2 separate regions of the Homo sapiens genome follow, and region 1 is linked to region 2. A link means that fine-mapping ties the variant in region 2 to the expression of a gene that starts in the linked region. Tissue or cell type: whole blood. Region 2 holds a variant in brackets; the other region holds the start of a gene. All regions are shown on one strand. Distances are from middle to middle.

Region 1 (11,074 bases), 29 kb after region 2:
CCATTTAAAATGCATGTCTCACTTCAGGAACCTACTTAAATTTAGGAAAATTTCAAAAATGTTAGCTTTACTTAAAGTGACCATGTTCATGGTATTTATTATTTATAGTCATTGGGTCTTGAAATTACAAAAATGACCTTTGAAGGGCCATAAAAAATGTCATGAAATGCTTATTAGAAAGTTTATTCTCCTTACTCATAGAGAGGCTCTTAAGGACTCATGCAGAGCCCATTAACCCTTATTTTGTTTTGTTTGTTTGTTTGATTTTTGAGACGAAGTCTCCCTCTGTTGCCCAGGCTATAGTGCAGTGGCATGATCCTAGCTCACTGCAACCTCCGCCGCCTGGGTTCAAGAGACTCTCCTGCCTCGGCCTTCTGAGTAGCTGGGATTACAGGTGCCCGCCACCTCGCCTGGCTAATTTTTTGTATTTTTAGTAGAGATGGGTTTTCGCCATGTCAGCGAGGCTGGTCTCCAACTCCTGACCTCAGTGATCCACCCGCCTAGGCCTCCCAAAATGCTGGGATTACAGGCATGAGCCACCATGCCCGGCCCTTATTTCGAAAACAATTCTAATGACTTTGCTCCTTTGTTTTTCAAACCCTCAGAAGATTAGGTGTTAAATATTAAAATTCAGGAAGAGATTGCTGTGATAGAGGCAAATTGAGAGCAGCATTAGTGACTGATGACAGTGAAAGAGATGAAAAAGACAGCAATCTAAGAGTCATTTATAGTGGGGGCGACAGAGCAAGACTGTATAAAAAAAGAAAAAAGAAAAAAGTTTTCTTAACCTTTTCTCCCCACTTGAAAGAATTGTCCTTAAGAGATCAAGAATATAAGCAGTTTGATATATGTACCTGTTAAGAAGGAAACAGAAAAAAAAAATCCTTTAACAGCAGTTGCCTTTGGGAAGGGAAATGGAAGAGGAGTGGCTGGACTTTCTTTCTTATTTTCTAAGAAAGATTTTCTTATGTAGGATTTTCTTATGTAATTTGATATATATATATATTTTGTTGTTGTTGTTGTTGTTTTTTTGAGATGGATTCTCGCTCTGTCACCCAGGCTGGAGTGCAGTGGCATGATCTTGGCTCACTGCAACCTCCGCCTCCTCGGTTCAAGTGATTCTCCTACCTTGGCCTCCCAAGTAGCTAGGACTAGAGGCATGCACCACCACGCCTGGCTAATTTTTGTATTTTTTTTTTTTTTTTTTTTAGAAGGAGTCTCACTCTGTCACCAGGCTGAAGAGGGATTGCAATGGCACGATCTCAGCTCACTGCAACCTCCACCTCCCAGGTTCAAGTGATTCTCCTGCCTCAGCCTCCTGAGGGACTACAGGCACATGCCACCATCCCTTGCTAATTTTTGTATTTTTAGTAGAGACGGGGTTTCACCATGTTGGCCAGGATGGTCTCGATCTCTTGACCTCATGATCCACCTGCCTCAGCCTCCCAAAGTGCTGGGATTACAGGTGTGAGCTACCACACCCGGCTAATTTTTGTATTTTTAATAGGGATGGGTTTCACTATGTTGGCCAGAATGGTCTCAAACTCCTGACCTCAAGTGATCCACTGGCCTTGGCCTCCTAAAGTGCTGGGATTAGAGATGTGAGCCACCCTGCCTGGCCCTAATTTTAAATACATTTAAAAATAATCTACTCAATTCCTAAAGCTTTAGAGAAAAGAAAATGGTACCACATTTCTTGGTAATATTTCTCATAGATACAGTCTGGTGATTTGATTTGAGGTAACTTAATAACACCTGCCACAATTTAAAATCATTTTTTGTAGTTGTGATTTTTCAAAGAAGATGAGTAACTGCCCAGAATCACCAATAGCAGTGGTTTTCAAAATTTTCAAGTTTGGCTTTCATGTTTTTTTTTTTTTTTTTTTTGAGGTGGAGTTTCGCTCTTTTGCCCAGGCTGGAGTGCAGTGGCGAGATCTCAGCTCACTGCAACCTCTGCCTTCCGGTTTCAAGCTATTCTCCTGCCTCAGCCTCCCGAGTAGCTGGGATTAAAGGTGCCGGCCACCATGCCCAGCTACTTTTTCTATTTTTAGTAGAGATGGGGTTTCACCATGTTGGCCAGGCTGGTCTCAAACTCCTGACCTCATGATCTGCCCGCCTTGGCCTCCCAAAGTGCTGGGATTACAGGCGTGAGCCACCGCACCCAGCCCTGGTCTTCATATCTTTATGTCAAATATCTTTCATCAAATGAAACCTAATCCTTAAATCCTACAAATGGAACGACTAAGGTGGCGCTGCAGGAGCCCTGTCTACTCACCCCTGTTCCTTCTGGCAAGTGGAGCATACTTTGGAAACCATTTCTGTAAATATGTTTTCACATAGAGAGATATTTGTTAAATGTTCTCTTTTTCATATTATCTTACTAATGTAAATGTTTACAAGTACTTTCTGTAATATTCCAGAAGAAATAAAGGAACTATCAACTTACAAATGTCCGTAGGCTCTCGGTCAAGTAAAATAGACTTACTGCTATCATTTCAGTTACTGCTAAAAGATATGGATAAAGACTTTTTATTCTTGCTATTTGCTGCCTGTGATTTGGATAGGCTGACATTTAAAGGAGTAATCTTATGGAGAATTTACATATATTGCTTGCTATGGCTTGAATGTTTGTGTCCCTCCAAAATTCAGATTTTGGAATGTAACTGCCAAGGTGATGGTATTAAGAGGGAGGTACTTTGGGGAAGTGATTAAGTCACCAGCACTCAACCCTCATGAATGGGACTAGTGCTCTTATAAAAGAGGTCAAAGGGAGCAGCCTAGTCCCTTTGGCTCTTTCCCTTCCACCATCTGAGAACACAGCATTAGTCTCTTCCTCCATGTGAAGAAGACATGGCAAGAAGGCACCATCTTGCAAGCAGAGATCAAGTGTGTAACAGACATCAAATCTAATTAGCACCTTGACCTAGGACTTCCCAGCCTCCAGAACTGTGAGAAATAAATTTGATTATTTATAAATTAATTAGTTTGTGGTATTTTGTTACAGTAACAAAAATGGACTAAGACATTGCTAGAGTACTCTGGGTTGTATTCATGCCTTTGAAAGAGCATCACTATGATTGTTCAATACTCTATAATGATAATAATAACAACAATCTCCTGCCTTTGTGTTCATCCATTCATGTGTTGAACGTATAGGTTCTCAGTCTCATACAGTATTTCTACATAGAACATACAGAAACATTCCAGTTTCTGTATTTGCTTATCAACACTGATCTAATGGTCATTTCCCAAAAGGAGCCCTACCCAGCAATGAGGAATTCAGATCAGGCTCAGAGTAGGGCTTAACACTTTCTTAGACAATTAATTACTAAAATGACTAACAGTGTTTCCCTGAATGAGAACTACCTTATCTGAAAGACTTAGGTGTGTCAAATACATGTGGCCAAGTTACCAAAGGAAAACAACCGCTATTTTATTTGGTTAATTGATTTAGTAATTTCATTGACTCATGAAGGAAAACACTATATAATGAGATAAGAATAAAAGGAAATTACCCCTACATAAGGGACCCAATACTTGCTTTCATCCTTTCTATTCTCTCTCCTCACCAAAGTGAAATATACTTACTAAAAGTTTAAAATATTATTTCTAGGCCCACTAAAATCAGAATCTACAGAGACCGAATCTACCCCAAGTGGGACAGACATGACTTATGGCCTGTCTAAATGCCAAGTGTTCAGGTATGCCAGTAGGACCCTTCTCCCGCCCTAGGGATAAGTCATTATTGGTGTAAATCAATCTCTGTAACACCATTCCTCTTTGCCACTTATTGGCTAAGGAGTGAGCATGATTCATTTCTTGCCATTGGAATTTGTAGGCAAGACTATTGGGGCATATTACATAAGATTTTCCTTCTTAATAAAGACAGAGAGAGAGGAGGAAAATCCTCTCCTCTTTTTGTCTTTAAATGACCAGGTAAAGAGGCAAGGGAAGTTGGGATTGTGGATGGGTTTCTTGGGACAATTCTAGCAGCCATCATTCACCCATGAAGAAAAGTCAAGATTAGCTGAACACAGAAAGCAACATAGAGCCCTGATATTACTGAGCTACTGAACAAACCCTGGACCCACCTACCTTCAAACATCTTCATGTATGAGCAAAGTACATCTGTATTTTTGAAGGGAGTTTTGGCTGAATATCCTGTTACTTGCAGCCAAAAGCATCCTAACCAATATAACAGGTGATTTTGTTGCAGAACCATCCCTGAGAAGCCCTGATGAACAGCAGTGATGAGGAACCTCTGTCTTACAAACTTTAGTTTCTATCTTTCTAGCTTCTTGTTACAGTGCAAAATCATCATAGACAATGAATGATCAGAACACTGCCTTTGTATTGAAATTTCTCAAAAATGTCCAGAAAATAACATTTTATAAAGTTAAAAATTAGTGCCAAGGTTTTCACTGCCATTCTTTTAGTCAACAGAAATTATTTGGATTGTAAGATTATGTATTTCCCCTCCTCTACCCTGAAGTTAAATTGTAATATTTGAATACTGAATGAAGAAAAGTTGGACTTATAAACGTTTGGTTGTTTTCCAAATTTCCACTCATGAAACAAAACAACAACAATAAAATATCACTACTATTGCTGCCTGGAGTTTCATTTCTGCTTTTTCTACTTGAAGAAATTCAAAATCTAACTCAAATGTCACCTTCTCAGTATTTCCTAACTCCAACATTGACAAACTGTCTCCCTCGTTTTCCTCTCTGATGATTCATTCATTCATTCAACAAACAAGAGCTATTAAGCTCTTGTTACGTCCCAGTCCTTGAGCTGAGGATTCAGAAGTGAACGGTCTTAAATAGTTCCTATATTCAGATCTTGTAATCTAGTTACAGGATGATAAAGGATGATAAATGATTCCTAAGCAATCACAATGAAATATGGTTAAGTTTCAACTTTAGACACATAACAACCCCATCCCTTAACAAGTTTCATTTCCTTTTTTTTCTTTTCTGAGATGGAGTCTTGCTCTGTCACCTAGGCTGGAGTGCAGTGGCACAATCTTGGCTCACTGCAACCTGTGCCTCCTGGGTTCAAGCGATTCTTCAGCCTCAGCCTCCGGAATAGCTGGAATTACGGGCGTGCACCACCATGCCCAGCTAATTTTTATATTTTTAGTAGAGATGGGGTTTTACCATGTTGGCTAGGCTGGTCTCGAACTCCTGACCTCAGGTGATATGCCCACCTCGGCCTCACAAAGCCTTAACAAGTTTCTCTGGTGTGATAGGCACAAGAGTAACAAAGATGACTAAGATGCAGTCTGCCCTTTAAGGGATGGTCAGAGACTGATATGTGTTTACCAAAATCGTTTACTCTTCTGCCTGGGTCCATAGTACATTTCCAGTCTCCCTTGCAGGTCAGTGTGGCATGTGACTGAAGTCTGGTCAATGGCATGTGGACATAAATAGTATGTGATTTCCAGTCCTCACCCATAAGAAACAATCCTCATGCAATCCTCTAGTAGCTTTTCTTTTTCTGTCCGTTGCCTGGAAACTAAGGACTCCAAGGTCTTAGGGGATAGCAAAGCCATAATATAAAAGGAGTTTGGGTTCCTGAATAATTGAGTAGAAGGCCAACAGCTGAACACGTGAATGGACTTGACATGAACGAGAAATAAGCCTGAACTATGTTTAGTTACTGAGATGTTTTACTTTATCTCTTACAGCAGCTACTGCTGTCTTAAGGTTATATTCTTCAGTCAATAGCATACGATGATTCTTAGCACCTCGAGGATGCTAACCCAGTCCACAAAGGCAACACCCCCTCTGGTTAATCTGAGAACTAAAATAAAAGCAAGCAAGAAAACCCACGCCAACACCTTACAACAGTAAACAGACACGCGCCCGTCACCGGGTGTACAAACAGAAAAGGCTGGGCCCCTCGCTCGCGTCTCCGGTCCAGCAGGCCTACAGGGTACCCGCCGCTGGCGCTGGGTTTATTTTTACCCTTAGTGTCTCTGGGGCCTCTCACCTGGCAGTCTCCGGCGAAGTCGACCAGGCTCCGTCTGAACGATTAGGAAAGGGGCTGTGGGGGAGGCGGCGGAGCCCGGTCTAGCCACCGCGCTCTGGGGTTCCCGATTCGCGCATCTTCCCAGGCTGAGCCGGGAGGCTGCGTTGACTGCAGATAAACGGTCTCAGGGCGCGGCACCGCGTGTAGTCGGCCCCGCCTTTCGCACGAACCCGCTGGGCGACACCGCGCAGGGAGGTCCGACCCGTCGGCGCCGGTACAGGCTCCGGAGTAAGCATGGGTTGGTCCGGGGCCCGCAGCGGCAGCCCCGTGTGCCCTCCGCCGGGTTTCAGGTCCGGCGGCGCGGGTGCAGAGCCGCGTGCGATGCCTGGTGCGCGTGGCTTCCCCCGGAAAGGTGGCGCCAGGCCGACCATGGGCCCACGTCCCGGGGCCTCGGAGCGGCACCGCGCGGTCTTTCAGCTGCTTATCCTCCCTGGGCGGGTCCGCAGGCTTCTGGGGCCAGGACCAGCGAGCTCCCGGGAAAGCTTCCCGGAAAGCTTACCCAGAGAGCGCGGACCCAGGCGCCGAGTCTTCCCGGAGATGACGAGACACCGCGAGAGGAGCACAGCGCAGGCTCCTCGGGACTCCGCGGCGCAGGCCGGGCAGCCCGTTACTTGTTTTATCGTTCCCGAAACCAACCTCTAAGTTGTCTATCAGTCCTCCACCTTTTAGCTGTACCTCTTAGAAGTGTCTTCTCAGCTGCGGTGGGAAGATAGGATTCTTTCTTAAGGTGACCAATTAAATGGCCGGATAAAAGACTTGTTCTGCCCCCCTTTATCGCTTAACACCTGCCCTTCTTGTTGTATTTTAGATTTTTAACCCTTCTATCAGCAGTGTGATTCTATTTCATTTAATTCTCATTTCATGTTTGTGTCTTCCTTTTCTCTGTATTTCCTCTTGTGTGTGTTAAGACGCGCGCACCCCTTACCTGTTTTTCACTCCTGTAAGCAAGTGCCAATCTTAATCACCGCTTTTCAAGCAAGGGAGATTATCCTCAAATTTCTCCACCAGTCAGAAACCATTCATTCTTGTCTCTCAGGTCCTCTTTTGTGATGAACCTATTGGATAGGTTCCATCCAATACCCTTCTTCAGATCATCTGAAATGATTATTTTCCTAAACGGAACTCTTCCTCTCCTAAAGCTTGTAAAAATTTCTAGTGACATTCAGCTTCCTCTTACCACAGGAATGACATATATTTTTCCTTTTAGTCATATGTACTTCATTAATATATCACCTGATTTGATTAACATGACTTTGGAGAACATTGAATTTTTTGGCTAGATTTTACTTCGTTTTTATTGCTGATAGTGTTTATAAAAATGTTTTATAGTTTATGGTCGGCTGTGAGAAAGACTAACTCAGATCATTTGTTAATGTTGGAGCCCATTTTGTAGAATTCGTTGTGCATTTATTTAAAATTTATTTGTTCATAGCTATACATATATTATACATGTATACCTGCTCACAGCATAAAGTATTTCATGACATACTTGTAAGAGTCAGTGTTCTATGAATTCACTAGAGAAGTTACAGCATTTTGATTATGATACACGAAAAGAAACCCAAGTCATTTAGCTTAACTCCTTAATTTCATAAACCAGAAAACTAAAATCCAAGATAGATTGGGTGACTTGGTCTAGATCACAAACCAAAGTTAGCCATAATTCGGTAGTGTAGTGCCCGGTCCAAAACCTCATAGATAATCTTATAATCAATGGACTCTTTCTGAATGCTAGTCAAAATGTCCTTTTGTGTGAATTTTAATGTACCGTCATCAACTGCATGATATTCTTCCCCATACACAAAGTGTTATCTTTTTGTTGTCCATTTCAGAATTTTCCATGTTAATATTAAAGTTCTAGGAAAAAAGGCTAAGAATCACTGCACATTTATTGAGTATCTCAGTGTGCATCATACCATTTGGTCATTTGAGGTTGCAACAAGTAAAAAACAAACATAAAACCCTTAAATTAAAATAAAAACAAAAAACTTTGCCCTGACAATGTTACAGAATTAACATCCATAAATTTACTTTTCTTGAAAAATTTATTTTCTTTAATTTCGTTTGTTTCCTGTTACATAATTTATATTTAAATTTACATTTATTTATCCAGAAACTATGTCCAAATTTTATGTCCTCTTTTCTGTTATCCTGGAGTTTGGTGAAGAAATCTGTACTTAATTTAGAAAAGAAATCCCTCTAACTGACAATATTGTTAGCTAACTATATATTTCTTAGGCCCATGTCAAATATCATTGCTTATTTTAATAAAGATTGTTTAGTTAGACTAAGAAAATAGTAAATAATAAGGGATGGCATCCGTTAAGTATAAACACTGGATTATTTTTCATAACATAACAGGTCAACAATATCGTTTTGAGGCTGAACTCCTTTACTCCTTTTACTGTAAGCTATTGAAGCCAAACTCCTTCCTACCTTTGTTCATTTATGATGGTGTAAAATTTTAAAATTAGGATCTACATACAGAACAATGCAGAATTATATAAAAATATTTGAATATTGAAAAATGAAGTGGAAATTATTATTATTATTTAGGTACAGGGTCTTGCTCTGTCACCCTGGAGTGCAGTGGCATGATTACAGCTCACTGCAGCCTCAAACTCTTGGGCTCAAGTAATCCTCCTGCCTTAGCCTCTGTTAACCATGCTGGTCCTGAACTCCTGGCCGCAAGTGATCCTCCTGCCTTGGCCTCCCAAAGTGCAGGAATTATAGGCATGAGCTACCATGCCTAGTCCTGAAATTACTATCTTCTTCCTTAACCCCCATCTCCCCCACAAAAAAACAAAAACTTCCTTTTTTCTTCATATTTACATTTTAATTGTATATGCTGCAATGGCCTATTTGTATCACCCCAGAGTCATGTGTTGACATCCTAACCTGCAATATGATACATTAGGAGGTGGGGCCTTTGGGAGGTAATCAGGTCATAAGGGTAGTGCCCTCATGAACAGGATTAGTGTCCTTATAAAAAGACACATGAGCGCTCGCTTTTTTTCTCTGCTCTTGCTATGTGAGGATACAGCAAGAAGAGGACCATCTGCAAACCAGGAAGTGGGCCCTAACCAGAAACTATATCTGCTGGCACCTTTATCTTGCACTTCCTAGCCTCCAGACTGAAAAATAAATGTTTGTTGTCTATGACACTCCATCTATGGTAATTTGTTATAGCAGCCCAAAGTGACTAAGACAGATGCTAACAAATCGAGATTTATTTTAAAAACTATTCTCCTGCTATGAGTTCAATATTTTTATTTCTTTACAATGATTTCAGAAGAGATTACAAAGAGATTAATATACTTAAAGAATCAGACTCTTGCAAACAGTGACATCATTAAAAAGAGCTTATTTTCATTAACATGTGATTAACAGGAAGGAGATGATTGGTGAGTTTTCTTCGTAACCAGGTTCACTGTGGATAGGAAGGGCCTGCCTTCCTTCCCACCATGGAGATCCTAAAATCACAAGCTCCAGCCTCCATCAATGATGACAGGGTTACCAGTTACATAAGCAGACTGCAGTGATAAACACAAGGAGACAGAACAATTAACCAGGTTTGATACAGGCTGTATTTTGAAATTTTCCTGTGACTAGGATAACTAAACAATTTACCCTTGTCCTAACAGGAAACCTCACTTAAACACTTAATTCAGGGAAATCCAAATTAACATTTGGTTGATTTAGAACTGCTGAGTGTCCTGTGATCTGGAACTAAATGGCCTCTGGCTGGTGTCTAAGCACCTGTCACTGTTAGGTATTTGGTCTCAGAATCCCCAAATTAAGGAACAGTGATGTATAGCCATTCCCCAAATTAGGATATAGGCTAAAAGCACATTTTCATTTTGAAACTCAGAACTATTCAAAACTAGCTAAGTTTTATGCCACTAATAAACTTTTGAACATAAGTGTATCAGTCATAAAATGGTCATATTAATGACCAGTTTTTTAAAAAAGACAGCATATATTTAGTTGATCAATTATAAGTGGATAATTGTAGGAGCTGAAGCACACTAAATGTGTTTTAAAAATTTACATGAATGATAATAACTATAATCCATTAAGCTATAAAAATATTCTATATTAGTTTCAGATATCCAAATCTTTATAAAACTAAGGAATTTAAAAAATAATTACTGGTTTATTCCCATAAATTTTTCATTTTCTAAATAAGGCTGAAGTGATCTTTTTGGTAGAAGTTTAAAAATCTTTTAACTTAAAATGGATAATAAAGACTCAAACAGTCTAAATTCATCTGAAGCCTGAAACAATGGAAGAGGAAGTAAGGATATCATAATGAATAGAGAAATTTTAAGAGTTCAATAGATAAAAGCTGATAATATACAGTAGGTGAACTAGGGAGTTATTAGTCACTTCACCAAAGAAATACCTCCAACTCCCCCAAGTTCTTTTAAAAGACAAGCTCTGTTACACATATGAACTCCTCTGGAAACCTCTAAAAAGCCAAAGGTACTTTTGTAGCACATTTCAAGCCACAACACTTCCAAATATCTTGTAACCTAAGCTCTGGCTAACTAAGGGTAATTTAGCTTATCAGCAGTACCCAAATCAAATGAGCTATTCTGAAGATACGGATTCAGAGAAATCACAAAGGCTCATGTGCTTCTTCATTAAACATTTGTCTATTAATTTCCCCAGCTATTAACAATTGTTGTTAATAGTTGGGAGAAGTTCTGAGAAGAAACTGCGCTGTCACGGAAACATTTCAATCCCTGTATTTGTCACATTCACCAACTATCTGGTGTGCACCAAGTTACTGGGAAGAGGAGCTATCAGTTGTTCCCTCCTCGCTCCCGCCTAGTCCCCTTTCCTTCCCTCTTCTCACACATTACAGTTCCTTGTTCCTGTAGTATTCAGAGACATAAAACAGAGGAGGACCTTCTTGTGCTCTATACCTTATAAGCATCATTTTTGCTTTCATCTTAAGCCATTTAAAAGTAAACAATAGTTATTAAGGAAAAAACTGTTAAACAGATGCAAAGTGGAAGAGATTAAATTAGGAATT
Region 2 (11,074 bases):
ATTATTTCACCCCCAAATTTTACTGTTAGGAATATTCCTTAAGGAAGTGATCAATTTCTGATCATTTCAGCATAATTTAAAATAGCAGAGACTGGAAATAACCTTATAACTATATATAAAGGAATGGGTAAAAAAACCAAAAACCCAACTATGGTGCATCCATGTGTGTAGATAAAGAGATTCACATAGCAGAGTTACTAGAGGTAAATATTTTTAAAAATGTTAATAGTTATCTTTCTGGTTGTGGGGTTACACTGACCTTCTACATAGCAGGACTACAGGAAATGTAAACAAAGGGAACAATGGTTTGGTTTATAAGAATCATTTATAGATAACCACATTATAGTTTCTCTGAATAACAGTGTAATCGGAAGTGATCAGTTTCCCTTTCCCTCCTTTTTCTTTCTGTGCTCTTATCCAGTGCCCACTTGCAGGAGGTATCAGTCTCTCCTTCATTTCTCTGTTGCTAAAACTACTTTTTTATGCTCTGTTTCAAATGATATTGCTCCTTCTCATTGTTTATTCTTTTTATCCTATCATTTATGAATTTAGAAGCTGAATTTTAAACTGCAAAAGTTTAGAATTATGTTTAAATACACATGGTAAGTGTTACTCAAACAGATGTCAAAATATAAAATTGTGTCATGCACAATAATGCTACAGTTGTACTACAGCATAGTACAACTCACCTTGGAGTCAAATTAATCTGAGCTTAAATCTCCGTGCCATTTTCTAATTGTGTGACCTTGGACATGTTATTTAAGTCTTTCTGACTTACAGCTTCTATAAGGTAGAAATCATAATACTTTTCAAAGGTAATTTTGTGAAAATAAATGACCATATCCACTTAGTGCCTCATACAGAGCCATACAGCGTAGCAACAAAAATTTATTAATTCCTTTTTCTCTTTTTACCCATGACAGTATAATATAATGAGTTGATTTCAATTTGCAAAGATTTTTAAAGAGCTGGTGACAGAATGCATTTCTGTTACACTGTTGATATGAGAATGAATGTTATTTACCCACAGTGAATGCTGTCTATGGAAGATCCCCACAGAGATCCACTTAATTGAGTTATGATTATATATCTCATCTCAAAATTTGTAACGTTTCCATATTTTCCATATGGCATTATTTTAATTATTTAAGTTTAATTATTTTGAACAGTTGTCTTCAGGCTTTGTAAGATTATCACAAAATGATATAGCTGCATTTATTTTAGGTCACCGACATCTTCATTAAGCAGAATAGCATACAATCCTATCAAGTTCAAATCTACAAAAATGAATCTGAAAATTAAAATAAATAAATGACAACTAGTGAACTTCCATAATACATATAAACCAAATGAATATTCTTAATAATCTTGAAAATCAGTATGAAAAACCAAAGCAACCTTATAAAAATGGCAAAGGCTTTTGAACAAACTGGGTAGTAATCATATGAAAACATGATTAGCATTGCCCATAAAGAAATGAAAATCAGAATAATAATGAGATATATTTTTAATTCATAATATCAGCAAAATATCTCAAAGACTTAGATCAGAAAAACAGATCCTCTCACATAATATTGGTAAAAATATAAATTGGTACAGTCTTTTAAAAGGTCATATTGATATTATCAAAAGTATAAATGTGAGTACTCTTTCCTAGAGCAATCTGATTTCTAGAAATTTATTGTATAAACTAAAATATATACTATATTTTATTTATTTTAAGACACATATTTTTATATTTTAACATTTCTGAAATTAGAATGTTATGTTATCGTTTAATTGGCACTATTTTTTTTCTTTCTTGGTGTCATATAAAATAATTGTGTTTTTTAGAATTGACAGACTCAGATGAAATATGGTATGTAAGGATATATTATTGAAGCACTGTTTATCTTGGCAGAAAACTAGAAACAACGTAAATATCTATAAAATGCAATACTCCGTAGCCATTACAAAGAATAAGGAAGGCATTACGGTAGTATGACCATGATATATTTTAAGTAAAGACATCAAGTTATAGATTGATGTGTAAGGGGAAAAAAAAGATGAACACTGGGTGTACATTTGTATATGCACATTAAGATAGCTTTTATAATGAAATACTTTATTAATTTGATGCTAAGAAAGTATCTGGAAAGCCAACTTAATCTCATTAGAAAAGAGTCATGAGCAGAAAAACTTAAAATGAAATTCACCTTTTCGCTGGTCCATCCCATGCCTGCAAGGAAAGCCATGACCAACGTGCACAGTCCTCCTGATCCAGGGAAACCAAAATGCACACTGCTGAACACAGCTAGCACAGACAACCCCAACACAAGGAATGTTCTCTTACACACAAGTTTGTCCTTTAGGAGAAAAAAATTCATTTGCTCAATTATTTCAAATCCCTGATTTTTAATGATTGATTTTTTCCATATCTAGGATTTAGAAAGAAAATAAAAATTAAAATGTCTATATAAATAGACAAAACAAGTGCACTACATAACATTTACTTTCTCTTCTTAAACAAAAGCAGAGTTAGCACACTGCAATGGTGAGCTCTTCTTTCAGGAACACCAATTCTCTCCTCTACAGTTATCAATGCAGAATTTCACAGCACTTAATGAAGTAGCAGAAAAAAAGTACATGAGCTTTGGAGCTGGACAGACCAAGGTTAAATTTATAGTTTTTATACATTGTTGGTGTATGTAGTAGCCACATTACTTAACCACTCCAAGCTTTGTTTCCTGAAAGCATTTACATCATAGGGTTTGTGTGAAGGTTAAATATATATCTCTATTATTTTCAGGCTCTATGTTTACTGTTTTAAATTTGACGCCCCCTTGGTTTTTCTTTCTAAATCTTTGGAAACCAGGAAGCTTTAAGAGGTTCTAGACTGACAGTAGTTTTTGTTGCTGTTGTTTTAAAGTCTAAGAATTGTGTACTTTTTTTCCCTTTACTTTTCCCTGTCCAGGCTTTTAAACTTCTTGATCACTTTAGAAAGTAGGTCTTTAAAAGTGCTTGACTTGGCAAAGGCATGCAAGCTCTGAAGGTGAATTACCTGAGTTCATTCCCAGTTCCACCGCTTTCTAGCTATGTGACCTTGTTCAAGTCACTTATCCTGCCTAAGCCTCAATTTCCTTATCAGTAAAATGGTCATAGTAATAGAAATCTCTTTATGAACTATTTTGTCGGTTGTACTAGAGCAGTGTTTTCCAATAGAATGTTTAGTGATGATGGAAATGTTCTGTATCTGCTATAGCCACGTGTAGCTAGTGGCTACTGTACTGAACAAAGTGGCACTAGATGATGATTGACTGATTTATGTATGTGTGTATGCATGTATGTATTAGATATGGGCTCTTGCTGTGTTGCCCAGACTGGACTCAAACTCCCAGAGGGATCCTTTTGCCTCAGCCTCCTGAGTGGCTGGGACTACCAGGCCTGGCTAGAATCTAAGGTATTTTGATACTAAAAAAGGGCACAAAAAAGCTATTATATATCTGGGTTTAGTTGAGTATTATGAACACTTAAAAAACTTGCATATCCTATTACTTTGGAACGATATTATTTGTTTTACAGTGGAATTTGAAATGTACAGAATATAATACGGGAACCCATTACAGGACTGCATTAAAATCTTCTATATTGAGCCCACTTCATAAATCTCATGGATAGCAGTAAGCAATTTTAAAATGAGGAACCATTTGCTCAAACATGTCCTTCACATCTGTCTTTGAAGGAAGTGTTCTAGAATGTTTTCCCAATGATATTTCAGAGCACAACTTTCCCACATATTATTTCTTTCACCTGGTCACGGCTTGGAAAGTACTGAATGAAAAATCCAAGAACAGATCCAGTTGCCACACCAATTACCACCTCCAAAACTCCTCTGAGGACATTAAAGACAGTAGAGCCTGAAAAATATATTAAAAAAACTTAGAGCTCTAAATCCAACAAATACACAGGTTTTATTCCACAATCATCAACATGAAGCATCTAATTACAAAGAAGAAACATTTTAAAGACAGTTTCTGCTTTCCATATTCTTAAATATGTAAGTGGAACCTACATTTTCCCCCATAGCATATAGGATTTAGGAAACTTTAATTAAAAAAAATTTTTTGTTAGCACATTGTGCAGAAAATTATATTAAAGTTTCTCCACACATAAAGCACTTCTTCACAGACTGTCCTAAGAAAAATGTACTAACTGGTTTCTGTGGTCTCTTGTTATTATGGCAATCATTCTTCTTATCTAAATAAAATTACCTCTGAAGTAATTTTATTTAGCTAGGATCGCTTTCTACCAGGTAATGCTATGACTGTTAAAAACATCTAGTTGTGATAGTAGCATTATGCTTAAGCTATTGTGGTAATAATTTACTATGAATGTGTAGAAAGTAGCTAATTAGCTTTAGTCTCTGGTATATTGAGGTGATTAAAAAAAAAAAGTCTTGGGCCCCACCCCTAAAAATCTGATTCAGTAAGTCTAGCAGGGCTCAGATCCAAAAGGTCTAAGGACCACACGTAGTTGGTGG[G/C]GGGGTGGGGCGGGGAGAGGAAACACAGCAGAGTCAACTAGGAAGGTTCTTCGAGCTGTAGCTTATGAAAACCCCACTGCCTCTTTCCTTTCTCCTCCCACCACCATGATTCTAATGCAAACTCTGTTGCTCTAAAGCTGTGGTTCCTATTCCAAGCTGCACTGGTTTCCACTCCAAAAGGTTCTGATTTAATTGTCTAAGATAGGACCTACATAAGAGTATTTTTAAAAATCGCCCAGGTAATTCTAGTGTGATGGTAAGGCTGAGAACAATTGTTTTAAAGGTATATACCAGGAAAGTGGTAAGAACATAAATTTGGGTATGTGTAGTAGCATTAAAAATAGGAGTATGAATTTGACTTAATAGGTAAGAGAGCATCCTCAAAGGTTCTTGAACAAGAAAGTAATGTAATGAAAACAATGTTTTAAGAAAATCAATTTACTAGGGAATGGATGGAAGGCAGGCTCTGGAGCAATGAGACAGGGTGGGATTCTAGGTAACAGGCATAAATCATACACAATCACAGAATGGGGAGATAACTATAGGGAGATAACGAGAATGTATAACCTGCCAAGAAGATGTGTTCCCACTACAGAATCTAAAGCTAAACTTAGATTACAATTATACTTTGTCAATCATATAATGTTGCAAATTTTATATCCCAATTTTGAACATAAGATTAAGAAATGAACTTAAACTTGTGCTGTACCACAGGATAATAAAAGTGTTGAACTGCTTTTGGCCTTTTGGCTAAGATCAAGCGTACTATCTGTTCACATCAGTTTAATATAGGTGTTGAACAACAGTGGGAGAAAAAATAACTTAAGTTCCTCTTTTACTATACTTGAAACAAAATACCTCAATTTCAGACACTTACTAAGTATTAATGGGACATCCATTAAAATCATTGCTGTTATTACCCATAAAAAGCTGAAGAGGAGAGAAGAGAAATTTTTCTTATTTTAAAGGCATGCTGTTCCTTTCACTTGGACTGCTCTCTGTCATTTGTGCTCCTTGAAAAACCCACTCATATTTTGTGTGAAGTCTCCACACATCTTTTGTGTGAAGTCTCCACACATCTTTTGTGTGAAGTCTCCACACATCTTTTGTGTGAAGTCTCCACACATCTTTTGTGTGAAGCCTGAACGTTCCTGGATCACTTCAAGCAGAAACTGTTCTTTAAATCTTTCTACCTTCTACCGCCCCTGCCGTACTGCACCTACTGCATGCTACTTGAGCAGTCTCTAGAGGGAGCAAGAGAGTAAAGACAGACAGCTTCTGGACCCTCCTTAGGTACAGAACTCTTAGTGTTCTTTTGCCTATTTTTAATTTGCCTTAATCAATTATCAAGCAAATATGTCATGCTTATAACATTTTAACCTACGTCCCTAGAATGCAAGAGTAAAGCCTGTTGTGAACTGATTAGGTTACCTGTGGAAAAGGCTATGCCCAAGCATGTGTTGAAGCCAGTGATGGCCAGAATGTCATCGAAGCTGCCAGCTGCCATGAGCAAGGTTGGGACACCCTTCTCAACACCATAGCCTCCTCCCTGCAAAAGGAGCATTGAAGGCACCACAACAGCTGGAGATACAGCACCTAAAACAAAACTAGGCAGACAGCATTTTAAACATTTATGATAACATCTTACTTATTACTATTTTGAAATTATAATGCCCTCCACTTTTTAGGGGTTATACTTGGACAACAACAGTCTTTCTTTTTTTTTTTCTAAATTAAGAAAACAAACTTTAATAAGAATTGTTTTTTGTTTTTTTTTCTTTTTTTTATTATACTTTAAGTTTTAGGGTACATGTGTACAACGTGCAGGTTTGTTACATATGTATACATGTGCCATGTTGTTCTGCTGCACCCATTAACTCGTCATTTAACATCAGGTATATCTCCTAATGCTATCCCTCCCCCCCTCCCCCCACCCCACAACAGGCCCTGGTGTGTGATGTTCCCCTTCCTGTGTCCATGTGTTCTCATTGTTCATTTCCCACCTATGAGTGAGAACATGTGGTGTTTGGTTTTTTGTCCTTGCGATAGTTTGCTGAGAATGATGGTTTCCAGCTTCATCCATGTCCCTACAGAGGACATGAACTCATCCTTTTTTATGGCTGCGTAGTATTCCATGGTGTATATGTGCCACATTTTCTTAATCCAGTCTATCATTGACAACTACAGTCTTTCAAATGGCAGAGAAGCATGAATCCAGAAAAACATGTATGTGTAAAACTTCTACAGAACACTGTTTTTCAAAATGTAGCCATAGACAACTTGCTTCAGACTACTTAGGTTGCCTAAAAAGATATATTTATTAGTGGTATAGAAGGCCTAATGAGGGTAGGCCCCAGGATGCTGGCTTTTTTAAACAAAAAAATTCATGTTATAAGGTTTGAAAATGCATGGACTTTCTGATTTGGAACCCAGTGATGCTAGGCCTTCTATTAGGGCTTGCTATGTCAAATAAGGCAACAGATTAGAAGAAAACGATATGACAGTCACATTGATACCAGTAACAACAGCAGTGGTAACAGCAGAAAGCATTTTACAGTATTTACTATGTACCAGACACCATTTTGAGCACTTTACACGTATTCACTAATTTAATCCTCACAACAACCCTATAAAATAGACAAAATCTATCTTAATTTTATAATTGAGGAAACTGAGGCACAGAGAGATTAAATACTTGTTAAAGATCACACACCGGAAAAATCACAAGGCTGGGATTTGAATCCAGGGAGTAGAGTTCCAGAGACTTAACCATGAGAAGAATTTCTTACTTCTTGCCTCTTATTAGCACTAAATTCTTACTAAGTCCTGTCTTATTTATTTACTTTGTGTGGCTCTTAACTGTTGGAAGTAAAGAACTGACAGTGGAACGAAGAGACAGCAGAACTGCCAAGTCATAATAGTCTGGTGACAGGAGGAAAACAATAGTAGCTGTTGATCACTGTTGCTGTGTTTATTATCCTTTGTGCAGACGTTAGGTGGAATCCGGTATCTCTTTAACAGGCATTGAATCAGGTGTAGGCAAAAGACCACGACTTCTTCAACAGTTTGAATAGTAGGTGCTAACTGTAAGAGTTAGCGCCTATTAACACATAAACTATGTTTTGAAGTTAGAATATTTAAATTATGCTGTAACATCTATGTTGCATTTTCTGATATCTATAAGAAAATTCTATTATGCATTCTCTTGTATGCAATCAGGGAAAGCCCTAAATGTCCCTACATATTTTCATATGACAAAGAAACAATCATTACCCCAGTATAAATCCCCATTGCCATGGTAAACCCAGCAGGTAATGGGCAAGAAGAGCAGATGTGCACGCCTCCACAATACAGGGACCCATGGACAGTCTTACACAAACGCCCTTTAACTTCTTCAGGGCCTGAAATAGAAAAGTAGACATCCTAATATAATCCTCTGAAGATGTGCAGAGAAGATGACCTTGAATGCTTTCTCTTCAGTATATGGACCACGTCTGGGTCATCATGAGTTTTCAAGGTAATGAGTTGTATTTAACAAACATTTTAGCACTCCAAGTGTTTTCAGACAGCTTATTAAGTCCTCACTGCAACCTTATAAGATAGGTAATACTATTATTATCCCCATATTTTTAGATGTCCTCATCTGAAAAGGCACAGGCTAAAGGCATTTGCCCAAGATCATGAAACTGGTGAGTGATGGGGCCAGGTTTGAACCCAGGCAGGCTGCTTTCAGCATCTGTGTTCATAATCTCTAGCTAATTTAACATTCTCATTAGTTTTATTTATAATTTGTGGTCCCAGAATGAGACTAAAGTGAAGAGCCTGATCCCCCAAGAAAATTCATTCCTGTATTCAAAAACATACATGAAAAAAAAGCATTAAAAAGGCATACTTGACCCTCATTTTATATATTAGGCAGTTTCCTGAGCTAGTATAGTTAGCCCTGAACACTTGTATAGGGCTTTGCAAACCAAAAATATGTTGTTTTCTCCCCTGTGAGCATTATTTATAACCCTGGTCTATATGTACATCAGAGAAAAGTGGGGCCTTTATTCTTGGTGCTGGCCCCATAGACAGACTCTACCTTTCTCCAAGGAAGAGAATGAGACCGGCTGGGCGCAGTGGCTCATGCCTGTAATCCTAGCACTTTGGGAGGGGGAAGCAGGCAGATCACCTGAGGTCAGGAGTTTGAGACCAGCCTGGCCAACATGGCAAAACCCCGTCTCTACTAAAAATACAAAAATTAGCCGGGTGTGGTAGTGCATGTCTGTAATCCCACCTACTTGGGAGGCCTGAGGCAGGAGAATCACTTGAACCCGGGAGACAGAGGTTGCAGTGAGCTGAGATCAAGCCGCTGTACTCCAGCCTGGGTGACAGAGCGAGACTCTGTCTCAAAAAAAAAAAAAAAGGAAGAAAATGAGACCACCTTTTGAGTTATTGCAAACCACAACAAGGTCTCACTTGCAAAACAATCCTCCATGAAATAAATTCTATTTTATTCTCAAGAATGTCATGCAAAGTGTCCACATCCATTTCCTAATGCTTAGTGATTCTGTTAGATACCTGAAGCATTGAAGAAACAAGATTCCTATTTAATAATGAGAAATTTACATTTCATACCTTTGAATCCAGACCAAGGCCAGCACGAACCAGAATGATAGACAGGGCTATGCTTCTCAAAGAGGAAGACCACTTGTGCTTGATCTGCACATTATCGTTGATGACTGGGATATTTCTGATGAGAAACCCTGCAAGCAGCATGCCTTGAACGAAGAAATCAAACATATCTAGTTAGTTTTCAAATACAGAAAATATTTTTAGTACTTTAATTTTATACAGACTACTATATAATCCCAGGAACCACTTCACTTATGCTTAGAAGAAATTAAGTTAAACTTTTAAGTAAAAATTAGTATAATAAAGCAGCTAAGAAAATAATGTACAGATAAAAAGATAGATTATAATAATTAATATTCCCAAAATAACTGAACTTAAAAGGGAGACAAGATGCAGCATTTGGATAGAGAGTATGATCAAATTCTAAATATAAAATGTTTTAATACAATGCCAGCTCAGTCAGCCCTTTGCGTGCAAACAGCAAACAGCGCATGAAATTATTTGCTATGTCAGATTACTTGAAATATCAATAAATACTTATATGGATTCTATTTTACCTTCAGATTAGATAATTTCATAAGAGACAGATAATCTACTTTGCAAAGGTTTTAGATGTCAATTATGATGAAATGGACATTGCCCTGTCATGTCAGCTGGTGACTCTTCTTTCACTCAGTCATTCAACTGTACTGAATGCCTTCAGTAGTTTAGACACTAGAGTATGTATCACACATATAATAATGGATTACATTTCAACAAGCTTTCAGCCTCTAGGGAACAAGACAAACGGACAATACCAATTTTATGAAGGCATGAGGGGGATGTTACATGAGCTGAGGCAGGAAGGGGGATTTAGAGAAGGGGGAAGAGGATGAAGAAACGGCTAGGGGAGTTGAGAAGTTTCTGGAAAAGACAGTAGTTTATTCAAAGGTAAAAGAAAAAGTGACTCATTCTGAAAACTGCAAGTAGTTGAGTGTAACTGAGGAAGCTGAGTAGTTAGTGAGGGAATTCTGCCTTCATTGATACCACATGCCCACACAAAGGGAAAGGTTTCTGTGAGAGACTGAGCCTCTTCCCTCCATGCTTCTCCAGCAGTGCCCTCTTCTCACCTTGTCCCTATAAGCACCACACTTCAAACAACTAAATAAATTTACTGAAGTTAGGTTATTTTGTGATGCAAGATGGGAGAAGAGAGACAACCTGCTGCACATGAAAGCATCACTCCAGGTATCTCTCATCACTGCCATTTATCTACGGGAAAGTCTCGTAAGTTCTGAATGCTGTGGCAGTGGTCTTTCTGGAATGTTTATTGGGCAACAATATGAACAGGCTTGGTTTTTGGAAGAAATAATGATGAGTTATATATGCACATGGTAAAATTAAGACATTGCTGACAAAATGTAAAGTGACAAGTACATACTGTACCCCAACTGCAACCTTCCATCTTCATTCCTGAATGTATTTCACTGTTAAGGGTCTTCTGTGCCCTTCCAGAAAGTTTCTGTACCTATTCAAGTATATTTCTGTGTGTATAAGCTCTTTTGTGCTGGACACAAATAGGACACTTATACACTGCTGTACGGCTTGGGTTTTTTTCCCATTTAATAATATATCCTGGACATTTTCCCACTGAAGCACATATATATTTGCTTTATTCTCTTTTAATAACTGGAATAGTATCTCACTGTTTGGAAGTTCCATAATTTTTGGACCACTAATAATAGATTTTAAGAAACTTTTCAGGTTTTTCATTATAAACAGTGCTGAAATGAGCACAATTCATACATCAAGTATTTAAGTGCCTGCTACATGCTAGCCCTGTATGAGATCCTAGTAACAAAGAGGTGAGCTAGACCAGCAGTCCACAGCCTTTTTGGCACCAGGGACCGGTGTCGTGGAAGACGATTTTTCCACTGATGGCAGGGGGAATGGTTTCAG

The links. PIP is the estimated chance that this variant, and not a neighbour inherited with it, causes the effect.
Region 1: SLC9B2 starts here. The variant in region 2 is fine-mapped to the expression of SLC9B2 in whole blood (TOPMed, PIP above 0.99).

What each region holds. Positions count from the first base shown.
Region 1 is chr4:103,070,190-103,081,263 of GRCh38, forward strand. It overlaps SLC9B2 (solute carrier family 9 member B2), which reads right to left and starts at 6,572. Exons shown (of 12, transcript NM_178833.7): 1 at 5,995-6,572. It overlaps BDH2 (3-hydroxybutyrate dehydrogenase 2), which reads right to left. Exons shown (of 10, transcript NM_020139.4): 10 at 7,403-9,566. The coding sequence ends at 9,513. RefSeq lists a silencer at 6,232-6,341 and an enhancer at 6,452-6,571.
Region 2 is chr4:103,041,101-103,052,174 of GRCh38, forward strand. It overlaps SLC9B2 (solute carrier family 9 member B2), which reads right to left. Exons shown (of 12, transcript NM_178833.7): 5 at 9,140-9,282; 6 at 7,793-7,920; 7 at 5,951-6,126; 8 at 3,790-3,896; 9 at 2,196-2,345. Among named protein-coding and RNA genes, the nearest start is that of SLC9B1, 27 kb to the left of the region's middle. The variant G/C (reference allele first, on the strand shown) is at 4,520.